4 linked regions of the Homo sapiens genome follow. The protein of the gene in region 1 purifies or fractionates together with the protein of each later gene. This does not show direct contact. Each region holds a gene or a part of one and is shown in the gene's direction. Other genes may lie near its edges.

The links.
Region 2: the proteins of RALYL (region 1) and ZC3H14 purify together in Homo sapiens (affinity purification with mass spectrometry; 3 studies listed by BioGRID and IntAct, with this or other methods). This does not show direct contact.
Region 3: the proteins of RALYL (region 1) and ESS2 purify together in Homo sapiens (affinity purification with mass spectrometry; 3 studies listed by BioGRID and IntAct, with this or other methods). This does not show direct contact.
Region 4: the proteins of RALYL (region 1) and CDC40 purify together in Homo sapiens (affinity purification with mass spectrometry; 3 studies listed by BioGRID and IntAct, with this or other methods). This does not show direct contact.

What each region holds. Positions count from the first base shown.
Region 1 is NC_000008.11:84,179,323-84,186,277, forward strand, and holds the start of RALYL (RNA-binding Raly-like protein), read left to right. Parts: upstream 1-3,951; 5' UTR 3,952-5,102; intron 5,103-5,348; exon of another isoform or gene 5,349-5,676; coding exon of another isoform or gene 5,677-5,692; exon of another isoform or gene 5,693-5,861; coding exon of another isoform or gene 5,862-5,911; intron 5,912-6,955.
Region 2 is NC_000014.9:88,622,037-88,628,125, forward strand, and holds the end of ZC3H14 (zinc finger CCCH domain-containing protein 14), read left to right. Parts: 3' UTR 1-567; coding exon of another isoform or gene 568-682; 3' UTR 683-2,933; coding exon of another isoform or gene 2,934-3,091; 3' UTR 3,092-4,801; coding exon of another isoform or gene 4,802-5,010; 3' UTR 5,011-5,560; downstream 5,561-6,089. Other genes in the region: EML5 (echinoderm microtubule-associated protein-like 5), read right to left, coding at 568-682, 2,934-3,091, 4,802-5,010, 5,610-5,783. UniProt on the Homo sapiens protein: RNA-binding protein involved in the biogenesis of circular RNAs (circRNAs), which are produced by back-splicing circularization of pre-mRNAs.
Region 3 is NC_000022.11:19,134,637-19,141,665, reverse strand, and holds part of ESS2 (splicing factor ESS-2 homolog), read left to right. Parts: intron 1-1,638; coding exon of another isoform or gene 1,639-1,641; coding exon 1,642-1,811; intron 1,812-1,936; coding exon 1,937-2,054; intron 2,055-2,373; coding exon 2,374-2,507; intron 2,508-3,186; coding exon of another isoform or gene 3,187-3,246; exon of another isoform or gene 3,247-3,348; coding exon 3,349-3,451; intron 3,452-4,233; coding exon 4,234-4,343; intron 4,344-4,719; exon of another isoform or gene 4,720-5,327; intron 5,328-5,406; exon of another isoform or gene 5,407-5,457; intron 5,458-6,490; coding exon 6,491-6,606; intron 6,607-7,029. UniProt on the Homo sapiens protein: May be involved in pre-mRNA splicing.
Region 4 is NC_000006.12:110,204,408-110,211,436, forward strand, and holds part of CDC40 (pre-mRNA-processing factor 17), read left to right. Parts: intron 1-3,098; coding exon 3,099-3,182; intron 3,183-4,676; coding exon 4,677-4,816; intron 4,817-6,299; coding exon 6,300-6,396; intron 6,397-7,029. UniProt on the Homo sapiens protein: Required for pre-mRNA splicing as component of the activated spliceosome. Plays an important role in embryonic brain development; this function does not require proline isomerization.

The sequences.
Region 1 (6,955 bases):
TTTTTCTCTCTGTGCCTCAAGTATATTTATCAGGAAACACCTCAGTGATTTCTTTTGTACACACCCTGTCACTATTGCAGGCTACTGTATCATAGAACTATACTCCATGTATTTAATTCAAAATAAACATATTGATACAATAATACTAGTAGACATTAATTTGTTCTACATTAACTTTCTAGAGAATAGACATTTTATTAATTTAATATGGAAATAAATATGAGTGTACCTAAATCATAATAAACCTTAACGTATTATGTATTTTAGTCTACATATCAGAATTTTTTGAATTCCATTAATATACAATGTGAAGAGTGAAATAAAACACTTGGGCCTCTTCGAGGGTGGAGGGTAGGAAGAGCGAGAGGATCAGGAAAAATAACTAATGGGTACTAGGCTTGATACGTGGGTGATGAAATAATCTGTATAACAAATCCCTATGACACAAGTTTACCTATGCAACAAGCCTACACTTGTACCCCTGAACTTAAAGTAAAAGTTAAAAATATATTTAAAAAAACAGTTGAAATATATTAAAAATTAAATTACACAGAAATTGTGGTAGTGCTTCTTGCTTTATTTTACTCATGACATATTATAATGTTAATATTTGTTTTCATATATTTTCTTTGGTTATTTGTACACATTATTTCACATGTCTTTGTCTTGGTATTTGTAGTTTCTCCAAACAAAAGTATTGGAAAAAATGCTATCAGACGTTGAAAGAGAAGTATCAGTAAAGTATAGTAATAGGCAGAGACAGGACAAATAAGGAAAAAAATTAATCAAAAATAAAATTCATAAAGTTATGAAAAAAATTAGCAAGCAAAATGAAAGAAAATGATTTGAGGGTACTGAATGTAAAAGTATGCATTTAAACCATGATATTATAACCTAATTTCTAAGTGTATATTTATATTTTATATATATATATATAGTTATGGTTCATATATCTTCAATATTTTCTTATGGAAACAAACATTGAGATTACATAGCATAAATTTTAAAATAGATTTTTTTCCTCAGTTACCATCATTTGTTTTATCTTACATTTAGTGTACTTTTCAATTATACCATGGCTTAGCTTGGAATGGACATGAACAGTTTACATGAAAACTTTGTTTTAAAAAGTCTCTGTAGTCAACTCCTGAAGACGTAACCACGATAACATGACCACATCTTTTGTACAGATTTTTCGTTAAGAAAAATTTAACCCCCTCACTTCTGCATTTCGTTTATTTTCTTCAGGTATTTTATAGAATCAAAAAGGTGAATATAAATATGTGTACTACAATGGTTATTTGTGGCAATAATAGGACTAAATTAATTCTCACAAATCTATTTTAGATCTACTGAATTTGAGCAAATCATGCCTTTGTTAATTGGCTTTGATGACATTACTGAAGAGTATTCAGTATCTTTGATGTATTTTTTGAATTTTTTTATTCTAGCTGTAAAACCAGATATAATTTTGGTTCAATCCTGTTTTTCCTGTGTACTAACAATAGAATCATGTGCAAATTACTCAAAATCTCTGACTTTATTTTTCTAATGGTTAAAATGAGTATAAAGTCAATGTCATGGAGCTGTTACAAAAATTAAATGAGTGGCTATACTTTCTAAATACCAGTTGCCTCAACCTGACTTTGTTTACTCTTGTTTATAATGCAGTGATACAACCCAAAAAGATGAAAATGGCACACTGGAAATAAACGATAGTGGAATATTTTGAGTACTCTAATGTAATTATATAAGTAAACGGGAAAAGTGCAGGGAGGATATTGATGTCTTGCTTTTCTTCAGCAGAGCTGCATTAACATAAAGGGGAGTCATTTTATTGAATAATAAAAGACTGACAATCACTGTGATTGGCTGACAGCCATTAGTGCAGTGTAATTCTAAATAGCTTGTTTTTCAAAGTTCTTCTTGAATAACTCTTCCCAGCCTGGTTGAAAGGTTCAAAACTCATTTTTAAAGTGAAGTTTTTCACATTTGAATACCACTGTGATATGAATGATGGAAAAAGATATGCATTAAAATATTTTCTTCTTAAATGTTTAGAATCAGATATATTTTCAAATGGAAGAGAAAATGTGGAAAATTTAACAAACTAAGTTTTAAATCCTAGATAAAATTAATTCAGGACTTGTGGAAGAAAAAGATCACGTGTAAAGAGATCTTACTTAATAAAATAAAATAAAATAAGTCCAACATGTTTTACAGCGAGAGCACAATATTTGATCTGTATTAGCCAGCTTAAAATTCTGTGATTTCCGAGTAGAACTCAAGGCTTCCAAAGTTATCAAATCCACTTTGATGTATTCATCTCTCTCTGTCAGTATTCCTAATCAACAGTCCTCCCTGGAAAGTATGTATAATAAGTGGGTGTACAGTTGGCAACTCACCAAAATAAATATTTAGTGATATTTTAATGGCTATTTTAAATCTCTTATTTAAATTGCGGATTAAAACTTTATTTGGCCAATGAATTCTGAGCACAATGTTTGAGGACCATATTTGCTACTGAAGCTCTGTGTGAAGGATGTGTACTTAATTTTCAGAATGTCGAGGTTAGATCATCTCTGATGGAGGCATTTTATATGAAACGTCAGCATTGGAAACATTGAGATAAAGATCGGGAGCAGGAATCTTTGAACTGCAGAATTGTGTTAATTGCTCATTCTCAAATATAGAGACGCCAATTAATTCCACACAACCTAGATTCAAAGCAGCACAGGGAAATGGTCCTGAGGTGAGTATTGTACAAAAATGAAGAAAAATAGATGTGTTCTAGCGTCCACAAAGCTGATTCTTCAACAGGCAGTAATAGAAGCCCAATGCACCCAGCGATTGGCTGATGGCATCTTTGTTCAGGCGATCGATGAGCGCCCTAACCCACACGCTGGGTGGAGAAATCCCTCTGCCACCCTCACCTTCAGAATCCACTGCTCAGCCACCTGGCTCCCGCGGGGTGCGCCACCGCCTCACTGCTGGTACACGTCTCCCCCTCTCGACCGCCAAGTGCTTGCTCCCTCCAGGCGAGCACTCACACAATGGACTCACTTGTTTCCCATGCCCCTCTCCTTTGACTTCCAGCCTCAGCGAACAACTTGAGCAAGAGTCAAACAGGAGTCTCTGCCATGGAGCATAGACCCTTGGAGCTTTCCAGACCAGCTCAGAAGCACGGGCGCACACACAGACAAAACAATGCCTTGTCCACGAATGAATAAAGGACACCCATGCCCCCACCCACCGCTCCGCAACCCGCAGAAAGAAACCCGGGACGGGGTTTCCTAAATAAGAGATTTTGTTGTGTCTTTCAAACTGCAAGCATTCCCCTTGAAGACGGCGAAAGAGAGGCTGTGCGTTCAGATGGCAATAAAGATTGACAGTGGCTTTGCCCGTGACAACGCCCCCAGCATCGCGCTGAGCCAGGTTCCCTGAGAACCGGGAGGGGGAAACGCAGATCTAGGGAGGAGGGAACAGCAGAGGCAAAGGCAGCTTGGGAGGGATGGGAAATGGAAAATCAGGGAAACAAACAAACAAACAAACAAAATGAATGAGTGAATGTGGGCTTGAATAGTAAAACTTCCAGAGAGAAGACGATGGGATCTCTCCCCAGGTAACTACCTGTAGATGAAAAATAGATGAAATACACAAGGAAGTGGCAAGCAACAACTTTGAGGTGAGCAGCAAGTTGTGCACCTCCTCTCAAGGCGCTGGATCAGCACCCCTGAGCTGCCCCCACAGCACACACTCCCAATGCGAGGCGGCGGCGGCAGCAACAGAGGCAGCAGCAGCAATCGCGGCAGCAGCGGCAGAGGCGGCGGCAGCTGCGCGCCTCGGGCCCAACCCCGCTCGGCTCCCCCTCTCGCCGGCGCCCTGCCTGTCTTGCGTGTGCGTGTGCGTGTGCTCAGCCTCAGCGTGAGGGGCACCTGCTCGTCTGGGCTCACAGCGAAGGCAGCCTCGCCGCGAGCTGCCGCTGCCGCTGCTGCCGCCACTGGTGTTGCCGCTCTCAGGCGCCAGGCTCCCCGTCGCCGCCGCCGCCGCCTCGCCAGCCAGAGTTGGGCTCCGTGGGCTTCCCCCCTCGCAGCCTCGGTCCTTCCCCGCTGCCTGCAAGTCAGCCTGGCTCCGAGTCACGTGTCAGTGCCTGAGGCAGAGACTGCGAGAAAAAAACGCGCTTCATTCCTTCTTCCACCGCCATACTGTATTTTATACTAAATCTCATTTTTATTCCAACATTTTACTCCCGCTCGGTGAGTACCTTCTCAGTGGCATTCTTGTCCTATTCTTTTTTTTGTCCTTTTTTTTGGTTTTTTGTTTTTTTTGTTTTTGTTTTTTTTCTTTTTTTCCACTTCTTTGATTATTGTTTATATTTGGGAAAGCTGGAGGAGCATGGTTTTGAGCCTTTTCCTGAATCCAAGTTTTTCTAGCATGCGATCGTTCTGTAGACAAGGCGCTGTGTCTCGGAGTCCGCGGCGACCGTGCCCGCTGGGAGCGTCTCCCAAGTCCAGCAAAATGTGCAACTGGTTTTATGGAAAAAGCGATGTGAAGTATGGTGCCTATTTTTTTCCTTTGTAAAAATAAAAAGCATGTTTCTAACTCTTTTTTTGCATACTCTTTTTCTGATAACATTTTTGTATAGGTGGGATTTTACGGCAGTGTTTACAAGTTTGTGGTCTTGCAATACTGGTGCAAACCACTGAGCAAAGACATTAATTTTATATTTTTTGTGCCCTTTTTGGAAGCCGGTGAAAACAAATTCGTTTTTTTTCCCTCCTGTTTTTGATACCCATTGATAACATGAAACTTTTCTTACAGCTGGTGATTGGGATCATTTTTAAGCAAAATACTTTTTTCCTCCTTTAAATTAACTATGACTTTTGCACATTTGACTTTTTTAAAAAACCGAGATAATTTTATGATAGATATCCTGATATCTATATCTATATTGTCCCTTATTTCTCCCCCTTCCCTCCCCGTAAATCAATTTTCAAATGATGGCAGTGGAAGGTTTTTCTGGAAAAAAAAAAATGAAGTGCGGTTTGGTTTCCTTGTCAACGGAGGATGAAGTGAACAGCTGAGCAGCTCGCAGAGAGCAGGTACTTGGTCCCCTTGGAGGCGTTTCCCGGGTGTGCAGTGGCAACACTGGTCCTAGCAAAGAAATGTGTGAGTGTGAGTGTGTGTGTGTGTCTGTGTTTGCGCGCGCGCATCTCCGGGCAGTGTCCGAGCCCGAGGTGGGGAGAGCGGCGCAGGGAGCCAGGGAAAACCAAAGTCCGTTCCCTGCTTCAGGATCGTTTTCTAGATGTGCGCAAAATACAGTCCCCTCCCCCCACCCCTCCCACGGTGAGCTGCGCCCAGGTCGTCTCCCGGCGGGGCGGGTGGCGTCTGCGCTGCGGGCCGCGCCGGCCGGGCACTAGGCGGCCGGCGGGCCCTGTAAGTTCTCCGAGGGCCACTTGCACAGCAGGAGGGGCGAGGGCCGTGTACGTGGCGCTGGCCGTCGGGCGGGCTAGAGGGGACCCTCAGAGCACCCGGGAGATGGGGGTAGAAGCGGCAGAGACCGCATATTCCGGAGGGGCTGGCTCCAGGCCACGCGAGCCGGAGCTGGAGACATTTCCAGAGCCTTGAGGATGGCACCGGCCCTCGCACGCTCAACTCCTGCTCCTCCTCTTCGCAATGAGTAAACGACGCAGTAGGTCCTACCCAGCCTATTTTGCTTTACCAAAGGGCTTTGCTTTCTTAGGGATGCTGTCTTTGGATCTTTTTTTTCCCTGTTGTGTTGCGTTGGTTTTAAGTGCCTGCTGGTGTCGTCTTCCAGGGGATGGGGAAATAGTTTCTTATAAGATGATCACTTGGGTTTAATGTTGAGGACGACGCTGTTAGTTTGCAGTAATGACCCTACACCTCTAAGGTATTAAAAAAATGCCTTTTATTTAAATTTTGTTAAAGGGGCAGAGTTTTCCCTCTTTTTAACCACCTGATACTGGCTCTAAAGGTTTTCCCCTGAGAACTGTGTACAGGGCAGGAGTGAGGGGTTGGTGATAGAGGTGATGATTTCGTGTGTTGGTAGCACTGACGTATTCAATGTTGAATGTATTCTATGATATTTTATGATTATCCTGTTACATGTTTTCAGTATAATTTAGCATTACTTTTCAGAGACGTACCAGTTGGCAATAAAAAGCCTTTTCTGTATTTAACACTGTGACCGAATCTGCTGGAAATTTTTCTGTCCAAATAAATTTCCTGAAGGCATACATCTTAAAATCTGGAGAGTCACCATTATTTAAATACTTTGATTTTGAAGCTTTGATTTTCTTACCTTTTCCCCCCTTAAATGAAAAGCTTAGCTTTAAATTACCATGTGTATATACTTTGAATTCTGTAAAATAAACATAAAGCAAATGAAACAACAACTTTTTACCTCTCAGATGAAGTTTTCTTCTAGGTAACTACAGAAATAAAAACTGACTGCAACATACAGAGGGGCCCATGACAAAGGGGTTTATAACATACACTGGCTTTTTCAAGCAAATATTTCACTGTCTGTAACCTCAGTTTGTGGAATGAAAGGTTTTACGCCTTAGTTTTTACTCTTTGTGGTCAAAAAGTAAGGCGTGCAATGGGCCATTTAACTGTAGAAGATTAAAAGTTAGTGTAATATCTGGAAAGTTGTATATATTTTTTATTCACAACTCATGCAAGTATCTCAAAAGTCTTTGGACATTTCATTGTATTTCCTGGCGGGGAAATACAATGTATGTGAGTTATTTTGTTCTCCGAGTAGCTTTTCTCTGTGAAGGAAATCCTGTTGCATTTATATAAAGAAGATAGTTTATGTCACTGTCTGTGGACACCATATTTGATATCTTGAGGTGTATAGTTCTAAGATTTGAAGCCAATATGATGGCACTAAGCCTGAAATTAGGATTTTCTTATTTTGTATAGTGAGCTA
Region 2 (6,089 bases), on another chromosome or scaffold:
CCCCCTTGTCCGCCTCCAGTAACCACTATTCTACTCTCCACCTCTGTGGGATCAACTTTTTTAGTTTCTGCACAGGAGTGAGAACATGTATTTATCTTTCTGTGCCTGGCTTATTTCACTTCACATCATGTCCTCCAGTCTCATCCATGTTGCCACCAAGAATGACAGAATTTCATTATTTTTTATGGCTGAGTAGTATTTCATTGTTTGTTTACTGCACGTTTTATCTAGGGAATGTGTGTTTTTTTAAAAAATGGAGACAGCTGTCCTAATATGAGTCAACTGCCAAGGGCTTTCAATTATGTCTACTAGAGTTGTTAAATTGGCAGATTCTAGAAAATATTGGAGGTTTACATACAGTATTTAGACAGAATAGCTTCCTAGCTTATGCACCACACTGGTGCTAACTTTGGCAAAGAAAGCAGCAAAGACAGAGTAATGTTGGCAAGCAAATCCATCGTTATGCATTATTAAGTATTGTTCATTAGGCTGCAAAGGGTGAGGGAATCACAGTAATAACCACTTTCTGTTTTCTGCTGCACTGTATCAGCTCATGGAACATCTTACTTTGCCTCTGCACACAGAACGAACACAATCTGTGGCTTGTCCTGTCTCAAGCCTGAAGGCACGGCACCGCCTCAGTTCCTGATCCCACAGTTTAACCGCTCCTCCTTCTTTTGACCTAAGTAAATAACCAAGCCAGAGTAAGTGTTCATTATTGGCTACTATAATTTTTATTATAAACAAATACCAAGTTATAAGCAGAATCTTTTTTTTTTAAAAAGGCCCTGATATTTATAATTTACCTCTAATATTCTTGTAAACTTTCTATGGCAATTTGAGGATATACTATATCTCAGTCAAAATAAACATCCAGTTTCAGTGAATTTTATTTTGAGAAATACTCTTTTTTTCTGACATGAGCATAATTTTATTTAGCCTCTACAATACATTACAATACATTATCCTCTCTCATAATACTTTTTTTTTTTTTTTTAAGATGTAGTCTCGCTCTGTCTCCCAGGCTTGAGTGCAGTGGCATGATCTAGGCTTATTGCAACCTCTGCCTCCCAGGTTCAAGCGATTCTCCTACCTCAGCCTCCCGAGTAGCTAGCATTACAGGTGTGCACCACCACACCCAGCTAATTTCTGTATTTTTAGTAGAGATGGGGTTTCACCATGTTGGCCAGGCTGGTCTCAAATACCTTGACCTCAGGTGATCTGCCTGCCTCGGCCTCCCAAAGTGCTGGGATTCCAGGTATGAGCCACTGTGCCTGGCCTCATAATACTTCTTGATTAGGAAGATGTAAAAAAACAATTTTATTAAAAGGATAATGGAAATGTAAGGCAAAATAATAGAATTACAAATGCTATGCTACAGAGTTGATTTATTTATTTTTTTGAGACAGAGTGTCGCTCTGTCACCTGGCCTGGAGTGCAGTGGTGTGATCTCGGCTCACTGCAACCTGTGCCTCCCAGGTTCAAGCGATTCTTCTCCTTCAGCCTCCCAAGTAGCTGGGATTACAGGCACCATGCCTGGCTAATTTTTGTATTTTTAGTAGAGATGGAGTTTCACCATATTGGCCAGGCTGATCCCAAACTCCTGACCTCGTGATCCGCCCACCTCGGCCTCCCAAAGTGTTGGGATTACAGGCGTGAGCCACTGCAACTGGCCCAGAGCTTATTTTTGAAGGCCAAAACAGAAGCATATTTATTCCCTATCAGGTGTTAAAATATCTCACTGGAACAGTTTAGCAGGCTTCTAGTGAGTGGGGGTGTGCAGGAGTAAATGACGTGGGAAATACAAGTGTTGGAGGACGAAATAGAGCCCATTTATGGATTTTATTCCTGGAAGGGCTGAAAAATGTATTCCTTCCTTTTCTGCTAGATGAATTGCTTGTCTGAAAGCATGCCTATGTGCATTCTTCCTTTATGTAAAAGGCACAAATTCTGCGCTTGTGTTTAATTAACATATGTGGGTTCTTTCAATCCTGTATTGAAATGTACTTCTTAGTCAACTATATGTCACATTTTTTTTTGTTTTTGTTTTTGTTTTTTAAATGGGGTCTCACTCTGTCACCCAGGCTGGAGTGCAGTGGCACCATCACAGCTCACTAAAGCCTTGACCTCCCCAGGCTCAAGTGATCCTCCCACCTCAGCCTCCTGAGTAGCAGGGACTACAGGCATGTGCCACCACACCCGGCTAATTGTTGTTTTTTATAGCGATGGGGTTTCACCATGTTGCCCAGGCTGGTCTTGAACTCCTGGGCTCAAGCGATCCACCTGCCTCAGCCTCCCAAAGTGATAAGATTACAGGTGTGAGCCACTGTGCCTGGCCTACATGTCATGTTTCAACATGCATATGACTATGTTGGTGACAAATCAAATCATAAGTATCTGGTTACTGTTGGGAGATTTGAAAATCACTCAGAAGAGACCTCTTCTCAAATTTTGAGGTCTTGTATAAAACAGTTTAAATTTGCCTCAAGCAAAAGGAAACAAGGCAGTTCTCTCTAGTTCCCTCATCCTTTTCTAAAGCAACAATGTGCATTCTACTCCTTAGAATCCATTCTGAACAAAAAGAGAGCAGGCAGTCAAAATACAACCCTGGCTCCAGATTCCCCCATGGGCCTCCTACTCAGCAAATCATACACAGGCATACAGACATTAAGAAAAGTAACTCAACTTGTAGGACAACTACCTATCCACACCTCAGAAAAAGTATCACCCCAACATGAAAAAAATTGGAAGTGAATTAAGACCAGAAATGAGAATCAAATAGAAGGCACATAAAAGGTAATAAAGGAGAAGCATATGAGGAGGAAGGTCGGAGAGGACACTCTGTGTAGCCTAGAAACAACTAGAATAATTAACTGCAAACCTCAGGTAGGTCACAAATGCATAAATATTCTGTGAAAAGAAAGAGGACTCACGGCCTTTCCTTTCCCCCAGTCACGATAAGTCCATCTCGCAGGGTGGTGTACATGGCAAACACAGGCCCGTTGTGAGCTCTCGCCACGATTCTACACAATATGTGATCTTTCCACACACAGACATCACCACTGATGGTACCTGTAAACGTCAAGTTATTCTGAAAAGGAGTGGGGGAGGGGGAGACAAACTCATCAAAAGTTCAAATAGAGTTTAAATAGATAATTTTCTATGTATGTGTAATGCTGTCTCACCCTTGATACAAAGAGCATGCATCGTGTAGTGGCAGCAGCACTGAATTCACGAGTCAGGAAACCTGAACGGGAGGCTTAGCTTTGTCAGGACCTTTTCCTTTCCAAGTCTGTTGCTTATTAGCTAGAATAACCTTAGACAATTCTTCCCTTCCAATTCTAACATACTATAATTCTAGGGTTTATTTTTTATTTTTTTGAGACGGAGTTTCGCTCTTTGTTGCCCAGGCTGGAGTGCAATGGTGCGATCTCAGCTCACCACAACCTCTGCTTCCCAGGTTCAAGTGATTCTCCTGTCTCAGCCTCCCAAGTAGCTGGGATTACAAGCGCCAGCCACCACGCCCGGCTAATTTTTGTATTTTTAGTAGAGACAGAGTTTCACCTTGTTAGCCAGGCTGGTCTTGAACTCCTGACTTCAGGTGATCTTCCCGCCTTGGCCTCCCTAAGTGCTGGGATTATAGGTGTGAGCCACTGTGCCCGGCCTGAGCCACGGTGCCTGGCCTGGTCTTATATTAAGAATACCCAAAATGTTCAACTGAAATTTGACATGGCACAAACATTTCAATAGTCTTTTTCTCAAAAATGTAAGTGTACTTAAATATTCTAAAATTATAACTTTTCCTATAAGTATTGCATAATCACAAAAACAAAAAATGCACTTAGTTTTTCGATGCACCAAAGGATTTATACAGCCTAGCCAATGCAGGATATTAAAGGAAAGAGATGTGGATTGGAAGCCACAGGTCCAGATGAGATGGAATAAAGTGAGAGGAGAGCAGGTCTCCTGAACACCCTTCTGTCAGGGCCAGGAATTGTGCTATTTCCTTCTGTCTCACTACCTCCTTCTTCCCTCGAAGTAGAGACACTGGCCCAGAGCACTTCCAGCTGTATGATAAGCAGTGTGTTAAATGATAAAAAGCAAAGGAAATCCTAAACCCTAGTACCACCTTAAATCATTTGAAAATCATGTTTCTTGATTTACCTTTCTCTCTGACAAATTTTTAGGACTATGAAGAACTACTAGGAAGACAGAAATTTTAGGATATTTAGGGTGACAATTAGAAGATTAAGGAAGGCTTTTGAGTATAACAGTAGTCCAAGGAATCAAATGTTCATCAGAATCCTTATTATGGTGGCTCATGCCTGTAAACCCAGCACTTTGGGAGGTCAAGATGGGAGGATCACATAGCTTAGGAGCTTGAGACCACCTAGGCAACATAGCGAAACCCTGTCTCTACTAAAAATGAAAGAAAAATTAGCCTAGCATGGTGGTTCCTGCCCTGTAGTCCCAGCTACTAAGGAGGCTGAGGATCACTTGAACCTGGGAGATGGAGGCTACAGTGAGCTATAATCGCACCATTGCACCCCAGCCCAGGCGACAGAGTGAGATACTGTGTCAAAAAAAAAAAAAAATCCTTTTCCCCCTCTCATTAACATTCTTTTCACTCCCTAATTTCTGAAAGAACTAGATTTTTGAAAGATGAAATATATGCTTGACCAGGGCATGTAATGATTAGCAGATCACAGTATCATCTCAACAACATTCATGTGGCTGATGATCTAAGGCAAGAGAATGTAAAGTAGTCAAAGTCACACTATGTGCATTTTAAGAGACATACTGCACCAAATGCAATAGCGAGCATGGTCTGCATCCGGGCATCTTCCAGTGTGCTCAGTAGCCCTTTTTTGCTAAGAAGAGCTCTTCCTGCCAGGGTCCAGAACTTCACATGTTTTACTCCCACTGAGACAAACTGGGTATCTGAATCTGGTCGGAATTCTGCCACAAAAATACGTTGATTGTGACCAGCTCTGCTGGCAATTTTGGCACCTGACAAGATACAACAAAATTATCTAGGTTATTACAAGAACCAAGCTAATCAACAGCATCAAACAAATATGTAAAATACATAGTTCAAAAAACAAAGGCTTAGAAGAGAGGCCAATGGCCCCTGCTCTACTACCTAGCAATACATGATTTACAATTATTTGTGTATTGAGTCCTTTTCACTTATCTTCGCTCCATTAACTTTTCTTTATATAACGTAAATGTTTTGTCTAAAGTGTGGTAGGTAATATTATCCTGCTGATCTGCCATTATCATTAGAAATATACATAATTTTCATAAGAATCTCCAAAACCAATCAAATCATTAATAATAAATACATAGTTTCTTGCTGGAAGAAAATAGCAGTGAATCATTTATAATGCTAATAATGGTTTCATTAATTTATCTGTTTTGTGAGGTTACAGTTCCACTGGGCTTTTAAAGTGAAATATACCTACAGTACCACTGTGTACAGTATATTGCATAGGCCTCCACTGAATGATTGTTTCAACCACCAACTTTAAGACAAATATTAAATACAGAATTCCTACTACCTTTGTATTCTTGTTTTTTTAAAAATCAAACACACAAAAGAATCCTACCTTCCTGCCATCTCCAAATGGTAATAGTATGTTCTGGGTCTAGTCCCACAGACAGCAATAGTTTGCCAGTAGCACTGAAGCTGACTGAACATACTCCCTTTGAATGGTAGCATCTTAGGATAGATAAAGTCTGCTTGTTCATTGCATCCCAGATGTGAATAGAAGGAGCTGTAGCTAAATAAAGATAGTATCAAAAAGTTGTAATCTACCTGTTATAAATATTTCTGTTTCTAAAGCTTATGCATATTCATCTGTGAAACATGGACAAATGTGTACCAAACAAAAACTGTACTTAACAAAGAACAGCTCAAAACTAAGGCTAAATTTAAGAAAGGAAAAGGAGTTTTGGGGGTGGGGAGGAAAGAAAAGGAAAATATATAGAACACTTCTTCAGGCCATATTCCAAATTGCACTTTTGGAAAAACAGCATTTAGACAAGCAAATCAGGCAATCTCAACTTTAAACAATTCAAAACAAATG
Region 3 (7,029 bases), on another chromosome or scaffold:
TTCCCTAATTGGCATCCCTTGCACAAGAGCAGAAGCTTTGTTTTGCTTTCATCTGTATGCTCCGTGTTGGGAACAGCACATGTGGTGTTGTGGGCCTTGCACAGATACACATGGAACAGATGAAAGAGTTGTCATCTTCAGCATGTTTGCTGGGACACACAGCTCTATATGGTAACATCGTGACTTGATGGGGGAGTCGGTTTAGGAAAGGGCACTCCGAGTCCTGTTGAATGCAAGTGTTCTGCACGCCATGGGACTTCTGCGTTGTCAGGCCCTCTTTTCATCAGTAGTAGAATGTCAGTGCATGTATAGACAAACGAGACACTCTTTCTTATCAGTTTGTAGACTCCACTGTGCTGGAGTAGCACAGATGTGTTGTGTGTTTGCACAAACATGCAAACATGATACTTTTTGCTTTACAATCCAGCTTTTTCGGCCATTAACACAGTCCTTGTTGTCCTTGAAGCTTGATTATCTGTTGAAATGTAGCTTGTGCATCACAGGGCAATTTGTAGATTTTTTTCTTCTCCTTTTTTTTTTTTTTCCTATAGAGATGAGGTTTCATTATGTTGCCCAGGCTGGTTTTAAACTTCTGAGCTCAAGTGATCCTCCCACCTTGGCCTCCCGAAGTGCTAGGATTACAAGTGTGAGCCATCATGCCTAGCCAGTTTGCAGATTTTCAATACCTGTACACCTACATGCCAGTAAATATAGGAATCCTTTTCAGAACCTAAGTGGTAGGAACCATCATCATGTTTACAGGTGAGGAAACTGAGGCTCAGAAAGGCAGTCACTTCTGCAGGTCTCAGAGATGGTCAGGGTTTCACTTCTTATCTCTCTGAGATGAATAGAGTTTCTGACCCCTGTCCTCATCCCGTGGGTCTTGAGCTTGTAGCCACTGTGCCTTGTGCATAGCCTCACGTGTAGCAGGTGGTCAGGACTGTCACTAGACTTGAAGGCAGAGCTCTCCAGGTGGCCCCACCGAAGTTTGCACCACCACACGCAGCACCAGGGCACCACCTCAGTGGGAGTACCACTTTCCATGGTGGCAGGGTTGGTCGGAGGGGGGGGTGTTTGGGGTTGTGGCTTAGCACCTGTGAGGCCCCATCCAGAGGACTAAGTCATATGAGATCCCTGGAATTGGGGCTCGCTCTCAGGTCAGGATGATTAGGCGATGACCACCCACCTGTAGTACAGGTACCAGGAAGAGAAGAGTGGGTAAGGTAAGGAAATCCTAGGGAGTGAGGGAGAGCCCCAGGGATTTGGAGGCCTGGCACCCACAGGCCTGGCACCACTTTGGTGGGGGAGGAGCCTGCCTGTGATCACGAGCTCTTGCTCTAACACCTGTATTGCTTTCTCCAGTCTGAATCAGACCACGTAATTCCCTTGGCATCCAGCACATGAGCAGAGCTGGCCCTGAATCTGTAGGGTACCACCTGAGGGCTCTCTGGGCAGTCAGGGTGGGTGGATTCTGCCCCCGTGGGGAGTCCTTGGCAGTGTGGGCTTTCATGGGCAGAAGCCAGGACCAGGGGAGAGGATTCCAGCCCTGCATGTTGGGGGCTATGATTCCTGGGCCTGGGTGTCCTCCTCTTTCCTGACTGCAAAGGGTGCTGTGTTCCTCCTCCCGCAACCCCTAAGCAGGAGAGGCTGGAGAGGAGGAGGAGAAGGAGCCGCTGCCCAGCCTAGATGTCTTCCTGAGCCGCTACACGAGTGAGGACAATGCCTCCTTCCAGGAGATCATGGAGGTGGCCAAGGAGAGAAGCCGGGCACGCCACGCTTGGCTCTACCAGGCTGAGGAAGAGTTTGAGAAGGTGTCTCTGGGGTCTGGGGTGTCACATAGGCGTAGGCACCCTCTGTGGTGGTTGGGGAGCCCCAGGGCCATGGGTACAATGCCCAGGGGCATCTCTGACCATCACTTTTCCCCATGTGATTGCAGAGGCAGAAAGATAATCTCGAACTCCCGTCAGCAGAGCACCAGGCCATCGAGAGCAGCCAGGCCAGTGTGGAGACCTGGAAGTACAAGGCCAAGAATTCCCTCATGTACTATCCAGAGGGTAAGTGGCGGGCCTCGCAGCCAAATGGGGAGGTGTTGGGTAGAGCTGTGTGTGTCTGGCTGTGTTTGGAGCAGCCTTCCAGGTGTGTATGGCCGTGCCCCCTTGCAGTTTGGGCTTCTGATGGGTACTGGTCTGTCTAAGGGTGGACAGGTCTGTGTGAGGTCAGCAGTGAGTGAGACCCTCTCCAGCGGCACTGGGGCCTGCGTTCTGCTCAATGCTTTTGTTCATCTGGGAGTGACTTGGCCGAGAAGCGAGCTCCTCATGCTCCTTAGGCTGCTGCCCTTCTGACACCTGCTGCTACCTTTGCTTCGTCTGCCAGGTGTCCCTGACGAGGAGCAGCTGTTTAAGAAGCCCCGGCAGGTGGTACATAAGAACACGCGCTTCCTTAGGGACCCCTTCAGCCAAGCCCTGAGCAGGTGCCAGCTCCAGCAGGCAGCCGCCCTCAATGCCCAGGTGAGCAGGCGGGTCAGCAGGGCCGCATGGGCCAGGTTGGACAGGGCTGCCTGGGGGCAGGCATGATCTCTCCCATCTCTTTGAGCTTGGCAGAGCTCAGTGAGTGGAACCATCTGGGGCCCTGTGCGGCAGGATCCTGAGTCTTTCCTTGGCCCCAGTGGGCTTCCATTGAACACTGCCTTGGTCACACACGTTCTGTAGGTCCAGATCTGTGCCAGCTCCCTTGATGGCAGGGGCAGGAGAGAAAAGGGACTGCTGGGAGTGAGCCCAGGCTGGCAGCTGCACGCCCACACACCGGGCAGGGAAGCCAGAGAGCCGCAGAGGGAGCCCAGCCCCAGGGGGTGGCTGGGGTGGGACAGGCCCTGGGTTGGCAGAGAGCAGAGGCTTTCTGAGTCTGGGAGCAAGACGAGTAGATACTCTCTGATGGTGACTGTGGCAGTCACAGGGTTGAAGTGGGGAAGGCAGGAAGAGACTAGAGCATAAGCATTGCCTGTCATCAGCATTGCCTGTCATCAGCATTGCCCCCTGCAGGGGCCTGGCGTCAGCATCCTCTGGAGTTGCTGGGATAGGCGCAGCTCGAGTGGAGGCCCTGGCACCTCCCTGGATGGGAGGAGGGGGCTTTCCTTGCTTGGGTACCCACTTTGACAGGCCCTCAAGGTCTTTTGGGGGGTTGGGGCAGGGGCCCTCCCTCTCTTTCTCCAAGAAGGCTGCCAACCCCAGAGCCCCAGCCTTGCCCTGAGGAGAGGAAGTGTTTCCAGCATGTTCCCACGTGTTTGCCCACCGGCCAGCTGTCGAGCGTGGGCTGCGGTCCCCCTGATGCCAGCCTCTCTGCTTGTTCCAGCACAAACAGGGCAAGGTGGGCCCCGATGGCAAGGAGCTGATCCCCCAGGAGTCCCCTCGAGTGGGTGGATTTGGATTTGTTGCCACTCCTTCCCCTGCCCCTGGTGAGAAAAGTGCCCACTGGCAAGTGGGTCTACTGCTGGGACTCCCTGGGGGAGGTGGGCTTCTCAGTCGGCCCTGGCCACTCCTGGCCTCTACCTGGCCTGCCCCACACCTTGTGTAACTCAGGGACCTGGTCTCCTGTCTGTACAAGGCCCTAGAGGCCAGGTGTCCAGGCTGCTTGGGGCCGTGGGTGGGCTGGACTCTCAGGCAGACCTGGCCTGAGACATCCTGGGATGACGTGTCCTGTCCTGGTCCTTACTGTGATGTCAGTGGGTGGGGGTGTGTGCACAGTGCTTATGAGTCTAAGTCTACCTAGCACTGCAGGGAGGGAGGCCCAGCACCTCAGTGGAGGTGAAACTCAGGTGGTCTTGTGGCATGCGTGGGTGTCCCTCTGCACTCTGGCCTCTGTGCTCTTGGGTGCTGGTGCTGTGTCACACGCCAGGGCATGTGAAGGCACCACAGGTTTGCCTGGGGTTCTAGGAGGTTTGGGAGCCCTGGAAGGCCTGAGTGTCTCCTCCTGCGTGGCTGGGGGAGACCTCCCAGAGGCTTGTAGGCTAAGCACATGGCTGTAGGGCCTTGAGCCTGCCTCGGGCCTGCTGGGAGCTTGGCATTTCCCTTTCGGAGGATGGAGGTGCCAGGGTTCCAGAGTCCTGGGGAAGGAGAGAGGGCTAGCTGCCTGCCTTCGTATTAGCTGGGATGCACATTGGGTGAACAAGCTGTGACTGGAGGGGAGGGTGGTGGGGAGTCCTCTGGCCTGAGGTGGTTTTGGGCTCTTTGTCTGCAGGTGTGAACGAGTCCCCGATGATGACCTGGGGGGAGGTTGAGAACACACCCTTGAGAGTTGAAGGGTCGGAAACGCCCTACGTGGACAGGACACCCGGCCCAGCTTTTAAGGTGGGTTGTGGTGATGGGGGAACTGTGTGCGACCGGGGTGGACACCTCTGGAGCCCTGAGTGCCTGTGGCTCAGGACTGAGCACTGGGATCGGCCCCCAGCTGCTGACGGGCAGAGTGCTGGCTTTTCTGAATGCCAGGGTGCTGAAGGCAGGTGTGGGTGGGTGGACCTGTCACAGAGGGATTTGGGGGTGTAAGGGCTGAGACACCAAGGCAGGGAGTGGCTTGGGCCCTCTGGATCCTGGAGGCCGGGTGCTGTTCATGAATGAGGCAGGATGGTCACAGACACGTGAGGAGCTCTGCAGGCCTGAGGGCCATAGGACGAGGCTGTGTGCTTGTAGAGAAGGCCCCTGGTTACAGAACACGATTGGGACACGCTGGATTACACGGCTCAAGCCTGGTGTTGTAGGAGTGGTCAGGGTGGAGTGTGTGAGGCCCGGCACAGACCAGGGGAGGCTCTTCGTGGGCTGGGTCAGATACAACAGGCCTCCCCATACCACTGCGGGCCTTTCCCCAGAATACTTAGTACAGGTAACCCATGTCCAGACAAAACATGGGGAGAGGTTCTGGTTACCTTGGTTCTAAATTGTCTGGGACACAAGGATAACCAAGGCAAACGTGCGAGAGGGATAATGAAGAGGATGCCGTGCTGTCCAATGTGAGAGCGCAAGGCAAGGGCTGAGGTGCTTCTGAGGTATGCCTGCCACTGCTTCCCGAGTCTCCAGGCCAACAGTAAACAGATAAATTCTGAAACAAACCATGATCCAAGTCAGAATTTGGGGCCCGATAAAGATGGCAACTCAGATTGCACTGAATAGCAGAGTATTTAGAAATGAAGGGAGCTGGGTCCTCAGGATGTGTAGCAGCATACATTGTGGAAAGGTGAAAAGGTTACATGTAAAAACAATAACCATAAAACAACCAGAAGAAAATAGTGGCGAATATTTAGTTTGATTTTTGGGTTCAAGTGATTCTCCTGCCTCAACCTCCCAAGTAACTGGGACTAGAAAATAGTGGCGAATATTTAGTTTGATTTTTGGGTTCAAGTGATTCTCCTGCCTCAACCTCCCAAGTAACTGGGACTACAGGCGCGTGCCACCACGCCCGGCTTATTTTTGTATTTTTAGTAGAGATGGGGTTTCACCATGTTGGCCAGACTGGTCTCGAACTCCTTGGCCAGACTGGTTTCGAACTCCTGACCTCGTGATCCACCCACCTCAGCCTCCCAAAGTGCTGGGATTACAGGCGTGAGCCACTGTGCCTCGCCTCTTTTTTTTTTTTTTTTTTTTTTTTAACAGATAGGGTTTCACTCTGTTGCCCAGGCTGGAGAACAGTGGTGCAATCATAGCTGATTGTAACATTGAGCTCCTGGGCTCAAATGACCTTCCAGCCTCAGCCTCCTGTGTAGCTGGGACTAACAGCATACACCACCATGCCCAGCTAATTTTGTGTGTGTGTGTGTAGAAATGAGGTCTTGTCATTTTGCTCAGGCTGGTCTCCAATGCCTGAGCTCAAGTGATCCTCCCACCTTGGCCTCCCAAAGTGCTGAGGTTCCAGGTGTGAGCCACCACTCCCAGCCTGTAGTCTAATCTTAAGTTAGGAGGGACTTTCTAAACATAAAAGCAAAGGAAGAAATCACAAATGAAAATAACAAATACAGCAGAAAATGTTATAAATGAAACAAATGTAAATGAGTGAAAAAACATGTGCACAGCGTAGCACAGTTGACTTGACACAAGGTCTTGGCAAGGGTCTTCTGAGTAACAGCAGCAGAAAAGGAAAATGAGCCCCTTGAGAGCAAAATAGGCCACAGGCACACGGGGAAGCGCCCGAAATACAGAGCGCCGATAAAGACAGAGATGTTCACTCTGATAATCAGGGAAACACTAAAACAGACTGCTTTTTCCTGAGAGATTGTCAGAGGTCATGGTTTTGGGAGGAACACGAAGACAGGTGAGGAGTGCTGCGCCTTGGGCAGGTCAGGTGGGGTTTGGGGCTTTCCAGGGGCTTTTAGTGGGAGGTGATGGGTTGTGGGGGTTTTGTAGGCAACAAAGAGAGGCTGGCACCCACCACAGTGGCTTTCTGTGTGAGGGGCTGCCTGGCGTGTGGCAGGCCTGGCGCAGCTACCCACACACCTGCTACCTTGTAGATCCTGGAGCCAGGCCGCAGGGAGCGGCTGGGTCTGAAGATGGCCAACGAGGCCGCTGCCAAGAACCGGGCCAAGAAGCAGGAAGCCTTGCGGAGAGTGACGGAGAATCTGGCCAGGTGAGGGGCCGCCTGGCTGGTGGGGAAGTGCGAGGGTGGCTCTGGCCTGCTCCTGTTCGGCCCCTGCCCTGACCGTGTGGAGGCATGGCCCACGCGGCAGAGTCCAGGGCAGGTCCGCGGGGTTCTGCAGTGGGTACTGTGGCAGCTCCTCTATCCAGAGCATGGCCGCACATGGACAGGATGAGAGGCCCCCTCCATCTTCTCTTTCCTCCACGTCCTCTTTGACCCGTCCCTAAGAGGCATCTTTAGGCGTGTGGTCCTGCTGGGAGCTTTCATCAGCCCTGTGGAGAGAGTCATCGTTCCCCTTGGAGAGGGGTGGGGACTCCAACTCTCAGAGGCCTGGGGGTGCACCCCAGCCCCCACAGCCAAGGGCGGTGCTGCTGTTTGACCTCAGGTTTGACCTGAGCGCTGCTGTTTGACCTC
Region 4 (7,029 bases), on another chromosome or scaffold:
TCCAGTTTTCACTATTAAAAATGTGATGTATGTTATGCTACAAAGTGCATTTTAAAACATGGTAGTGAATATTTTTGTACATAAAACTTTACATGTTCTTATATTATTTTATACTATTTTCTTAAATGAGTTCCCAAACGTAGGTAAAAGAATATGTGTTTTAAAAGCTTTTGGTATATATTATCAAATTGCTTTCCAAAAGAATTCTCTCAACCTACTCTACCACCACAGTGTATAAAAGTCCTATTTCTCTTTTTTTTTTTTTTTTTTTTTGAGACAGGATCTCGCTCTGTCACTCAGGCCGTGCAGTTGTGGGATCTCTGCTCACTGCAACCTCTACCTCTGGGGTTCAGGCAATTCTCATGCCTCAGCCTCCTGAGTAGCTGGAATTACAGGCATGAACGACCACACATAGCTAATGTTTTTTTTTGTATTTTTCGTAGAGATGGGGTTTTACCATATTGGCCAGACTTGTCTCAAAACTCCTGGCCTCAAGTAATCTGCCTTCCTTGGCCTCCCAAAGTGCTGGGATTACAGGCCTGAGCCACGATGCCCGGCCCTATTTCTCTTCATCAAAGATCCATATGATTGTTTTTCCTTTGTTTACTTGATAATCAAAGTATTATATTTCTTTATTGCAACTTGATTTTTCCGGACTACTAGTGAGGTCGAAGGTTTTTTCATATATTTATGACCATTCTTTTGCAAATTGTTTATAGTCTCTTTTCATTTGCCTAATGGAATTAGTTTTAATAATTATTATTAGTTTAATAATCTTAAGGGTATAATAATAAAATCAATATTATGGCCATTTCAAATAAGACTGCCGAAGGGAAGAAAGTAGACATTAATTCCATTAAAAAGATAAAAGGGAAAACAAGCTTCAGGAAGATAGATAAGAATATTTAAGAAATGTAGAAATATTCACTTATTTGAGACACAAGATAGTGAGAAAACAAATTGGACTGAAATTTAGTAGTGTTAGAATTAGATCTTGTTCTATCACTGGCTGATTTGTAGTAAGACATAAGGCCAAATATTTAACTCTTATTTGTAAAAGGAAAATAATACTGTTTTCTAATCACCTGGGGTGGAAGGCAGTAGTGGGGATGGTGGTATGGCAGTAAAGATTTTTACCACAGAGGATGTGGAGCAAGAGGAAAGCATAACTTATTTTTCTGAGTAACAAGACAGTGGCCAGATGAGTTGGGGAATGGTGCTTACACAGAGACAAGGACCAGGGATACCTCTTCCCTCTCTGTCTACTCCTTCACCCTTCCAGACGCGTCATGAAATGCTATTTATGTAGACGTTAAGTCTCCTTTCAAAGTAGAAATTTACATTCTAGCTAGATACGTTTTTTATTATTGAAATGGAAACTTTTAACATGGTATGAGCTTATAAAAGTCTCATTTTTTGGAAAAAGTTATGTGCAGAACACTTCTGTACATCAAAGAGATTAAAGACAAAATAACTCATGGGATTTGAACCTGTGATTTCAGAGATTCTACTCCAAAGGCTGATTTTCTGCCACCAAGCTCTCTCCTCTGGTTAAGAACATATTTTAATGCTGAAAAAAACTATATGCAAATCAGCTAATAGCCAGGTGGTTGGTTCTGTTATAGCATATCATGAGGGTGAGTTCAGCACTTACATCCTTAGCTTGTTTGAAAAGCATGCTTCATGATGAATCTTTTTCTGTTCCCCAAAAGAAGTTCCCTATATTCTGTTTTTTTGTGTGTGTGTGTGAGATGGAGTCTCGCTCTGTCGCCCAGGCTGGAGTGCAGTGGCGCGATCTCAGCTCACTGCAAGCTACACCTCCCCGGTTCACACCATTCTCCTGCCTCAGCCTCCCGAGTAGCTGGGACTACTTTGGATGAAAAATGAAAATAATAAGTCTATCCTCTAGGATGTGCCCTTTAGAAAAAATGGGCTTAGTACTTTTTTATGTATTCTATTATCGTACACATGAGTTGTAGGCCATAAAGTGATCAGTGATTTAGCACTCTTGTGAATATACCAGACTAATGTTACCAAACATTTACTGTGCTAGCACACCCATTTGAGAAAAAAACTGATTTGAGCTAACTTAGGTAGACTTTCTTTCCTTAAATTCCCATGGACCACTGAAGACCACATTTATATGTAGCTACATACTTTATAATTAGTTTAAAAAGCACATTCGTATGCTGGTAGATATCCTTCCTTCTCTTAAGGAAATATAAAGAATGATTGATGAAATAGAAATATATTAAGATTGGGAAGGAAGACTGTCCTTACTGCAAATGGTATTTTCAAAATAATAGCTAGATTTTATGTAATCTTCTTACCCTTTTTTATTTAATAATTTACATAATTTGATAAACTTAGCCCTGCAATATCTATTACCAAGAAGAAAAGGAAAATGGTTTCTAGATTTCCAAGTGCATCATGTACATGTATTTTCAAGCTCTTAGAATATTTAAAACTAAAGTTTGATGTGTTGGCCAGAGAGGCTCTTAGTAATGTAATGTCAGTATGCAAAATTCATCCTATAAGAAACATATTATGCTGGAGTCTAGCCTGAGCTTTGGGTTCTAAATAGAAAAATATAGCTTTGGGTTCTAAATAGAAATATAGCTCAGGGGCCGGGAGTGGTGGCTCACACCTGTAATGCCAGCACTTTGGGAGGCCAAGGCGGTGGATCATTTAAGGTCAGGAGTTCAAGATCAGCTTGGCCAACATGGTGAAACCCCATCTCTCCAAAAAAATACAAAAGTTAGCTAGGGGTAATGACGCATGCCTGTAATCCCAGCTACTCTGGAGGCTGAGGCAGGAGAATTGCTTGAGCCTGGAAGGCGGAGGTTGCAGTGAGCCGAGATTACACCACTGCACTCCAGCCTGGGTGACAGGGTGAGACCCTATCTCAAAAAAAAAAAAAAAAAAAAAAAGGAAGCAATATAGCTCAGGGCAGAATGATTGGTCCTGATTGGTCCTGAGTTAGAGATCATTTTTGACATCTGGGAAAGAAAATGTGAAATGTGTATATTTGTATTATAATAATAAAATGAATTTAAACAGCAAAATGGAGTTAATAATTTTCACTTTTTTGCTTTCAGGTTATGCATTAGACCCTTCATTAGATAATCATCAAGTGTCTGCTAAATATATTGGTTCTGTAGAAGAAGCTGAAAAAAATCAAGGTAATTTATTTGAAACATTTGATATCATATATACCTACACATCTATAATTAGTGTCTTGCAGAGTGACTTTAATTAGACAGTAAAAAATAGTATTTAGCGCTTTTTTTTTTAAAGTTGAAACAATGGAGCGATACAGTTTAGAGCAATATAGTTCAGAAATGTTACAGTTTAGAGCTTGCTTTTGCCGCTTACTAGTTGTGGAATCTTGTAGGGAAAATAATGATACATATCTCTTTGAGTTACTTTGAGTACTTGGCACCATGCCAACCCTGTAGAAATCACTCAATAAATTACAACTAATGTATAGATAATTTTGGCAATTGATTTCTCAACATTAATGTCAAGCTTCATTTTAACAGAGTAGAAATACTTTATTTGGTAAGTCTGTGAAGATTGTCTTTGAAGAGTTGCTTTGAAGGTTGAGTTTGAATATGTGTTGTATGTATGCTTGTATTCATATTCATTTTGTACTTACAATAAGACAAAACATCATACGCTAAACGCTAACTTGTCACAAGCCTCATCAGTCCATTAGAATATTATCCATAAAATGCAATTTAAAAAGTAATTTGCTGGTTGGTTGCATGGGACATTTGTGCTTAGTAGCTATAGATCCTATGTGATCTGGCTGGTCTCTGTATATGAGCTAGATTATTGTTAAAATAGAATTTTAACAGGCTTTTGCTATAAAACATAGCCTGAATTAATATAGGTAGACATTTCTTCTTTAAGCTAGACCTCTGCAAGTCCCATCTAAAGGTAGCTAGATTCTTAGTTAACTTGTGACTATGATTCCACAAACCTTTCTTTTTCCAAGTTAATGACTATACACAGTATGCCACCTCCTACTAATCAAATCAAAATCTCAACCAGAAACACCCTCCTTCTCCTTTTCTTTTACTGTTAACGTTAATGATATTAGAGGTCAAGATGAGACTGAAATCACTTGGAAGGAATACCATTTCTGGTGAAACCTTGTTTGATTTACATTTTTGCATTACAAGTGAAGTGAAGATAAGTTATTAAGTACTTACAGTAATTTAGTTTAATTTAGTTTTAAAATGATAAATTACAGTTTATTCTTGCTTCCAAATGTCACTTTATTATTACTTAGCAATAATGAGTTTCTGAGTTTTTTCCAGAAAGTCGTACAAATCCACTGACACAGCTTTTTGATTCAATAAAAGGCTTGTGCGCCATTGTAGGAGTACATATTTGGGTCTCTTCTTTAAGTATACAGTATTAGAATTTGCAGAATATTGAATTAGTTTTAAGTGTCTTTGCCCAGAAGGTTGAATCCCTTTTTCTGTAGCATGAGTCAGCGTATATGGTAGATTCATGTAGATTGTTTTTTAATAACTCTGGGGTCACTTGAACAATCATCTTTCTTTAACCATATAAAATAAAATTAAACATATGTTCATATTTCTTTAGAAAATGTACATCTTTGTAATCTCTCAGTTTTTTTTTTAATTTTTTTTTTGTTAACGTAGGTTTAACTGTATTTGAAACTGGTCAGAAGAAAACAGAAAAGAGGAAAAAGTTTAAAGAAAATGATGCATCCAATATTGATGGTTTTTTGGGACCATGGGCAAAATATGTGGATGAAAAAGATGTAGCCAAACCTTCAGAAGTAAGCTTTGATGTTTTTAATTGTCAATTCAGGTATACGCTGTATCTCTATGAAGGATATCTACATTAATAAACTTGAGATTTCTTTAGAGAACCAAATGACTCATCAAAATTTTTCTGCCTTTAGTTGATTGAAAATATACAATAAAATTTATTTGTTTTTCTTTGGGATATTTTTATTTACCTTTTCTGCTGATTTGTTTTCTCTCATGCTTTTTTATTAAAATACAATATTGAACAATTTTCATAAAGATTTCCTTGATATTGCTATTAAGCTGCCATGGTAGCTACTCTTCTGATACTAGACATTCAGATAGTAACTACAAAATCAGCCTTCTGTGACACTAGAATTGATTATAAATTTTATTGATTTATGAATTTATTTAAAATTTTCAACAAATTTTATCTCTATATATATCTTAAAAACTACTATAAAGTTTGTAAAGTAAATGCTCTGCCGTTCCCTTCCTCACCTCCTAATCTCACTGTCTCCATGAGCCAGAGAGTGTTCTAGGTCCCAGGCATACAGCAGTGGACAAGATCAAGAAAATCATGACCTCATGAAGCTTATATTCTAGCTGTTACTTACATCCAGTAAATCCATGTTTATAGTAATAGAAATAAACAGGTGATATCTAAGATGAATAAACTTATTCTACTATTTTTTATTTTAGATTTTATCTGTTGACTTGTTATTATAGATAGAGATTTACTACTACCCCATCTTCTGTCCCCAGCTCCTCCCAAAAAAATTGTGTCACAAATGTATAGCTATCACTTATATCCTTAGGAGTATGTAAAAACAATTAACTGAAAAACAACATTATGTGCTAAAATTCAGTTTCCATTCTGAAACTAGATTTTCTGATTGCCTTGTCTTTTTACTTGTATAACTAGTATAACATGTTAAAATTTATTTCTAGGTGTCACAGAAGGATAAGTTTTGAAAACTGATTTTATATAGTTGAAAAGTATTATCTAGTATCCATTATGTATTTAGTACCATTTCATAATTTGTGGAAGAGGTAATCAGTCTCTGCTTATAGAAGACTTGAGCTTGGCCGGGCCTGTAAGCCCAGCACTTTGGGAGGCCGAGGCGGGCGCATTGCCAGAGCTCAGGAGTTCGAGACCAGCCTGGGCAACACAGTAAAACCCTGTCTCTACTAAAACAGAAAAAATTAGCCAGGCGTGGTAGTGTGCACCGAGTAGTCCCAGCTACTCGGGAGGCTGAGGCAGGAGAATTGCTTGAACTAGGAAGAGGGAGGTTGCAGTGAGCAGAGATTCGCGCCACTGCACTCCAGCCTGGGCGACAGTGCGAGACTCATCTCAGAAAAAAAAAAAAAAAAAAAAAGTGTTGAGCTTGTTATCCTGGGAACATACTCGGACCAGATATGTAGAAGTCATTATAAAGAATTTATAACCAACTTTAGGTATAATGAGGTTCTAGAACATTCATTTTAAATTTCACTCCTTAATTTTCTTAGGAAGAGCAAAAAGAATTGGATGAAATCACAGCAAAGAGGCAGAAAAAAGGAAAACAGGAAGAAGAGAAACCTGGGGAGGAGAAGACAATCTTACATGGTAACATATTTTTTGTACATCTTCATTTTTATGAAAAACCTTCATATTTACTCTGTTCGCTGTTCATACAATATCAATTACCCTTACTATCAGCTGTAATAAAATCATTATGTTAAGTATAATTGTGTTGGACAATTTGTATCCCAAGGAAATTACAGCAGACTTCTGTATACTGATAAAGGAGAAAAAATAGCATGATTAATGATAGCCACAGATAATTTTTTTCCAAGTGTGAATGAATTTTATTAAATGGTAGATAAAAAGAAACTTGAATAGTCCACAATCTATTCTTTCGTAAGATAAAGTTGACTCTTTTGGTGTATTAATAGTGCCCCAGTCATTTTAAATGTTTTTAATGAAGCCAAATACTCAGGTATCCTCACAGTTCATAATCGTTATTCAGCTATATTCAGAATAAACTTGGATTTTCGTGTGAAAAGATGGAGCTTAAGGCTCTCATACTTATTTTGACTTGTAGAAGGAAATGCATATTCACCAAAACAAATCGTAAGTATTCTAGAATGTACCTGTTAATAATTAGTTATATTTAGGAAAATACATAGTGATTATCTAAAACTGTAAAGAATAGCTTAGCATTTACAGTGTTGCTTATTCTAATGTTATATTACATCA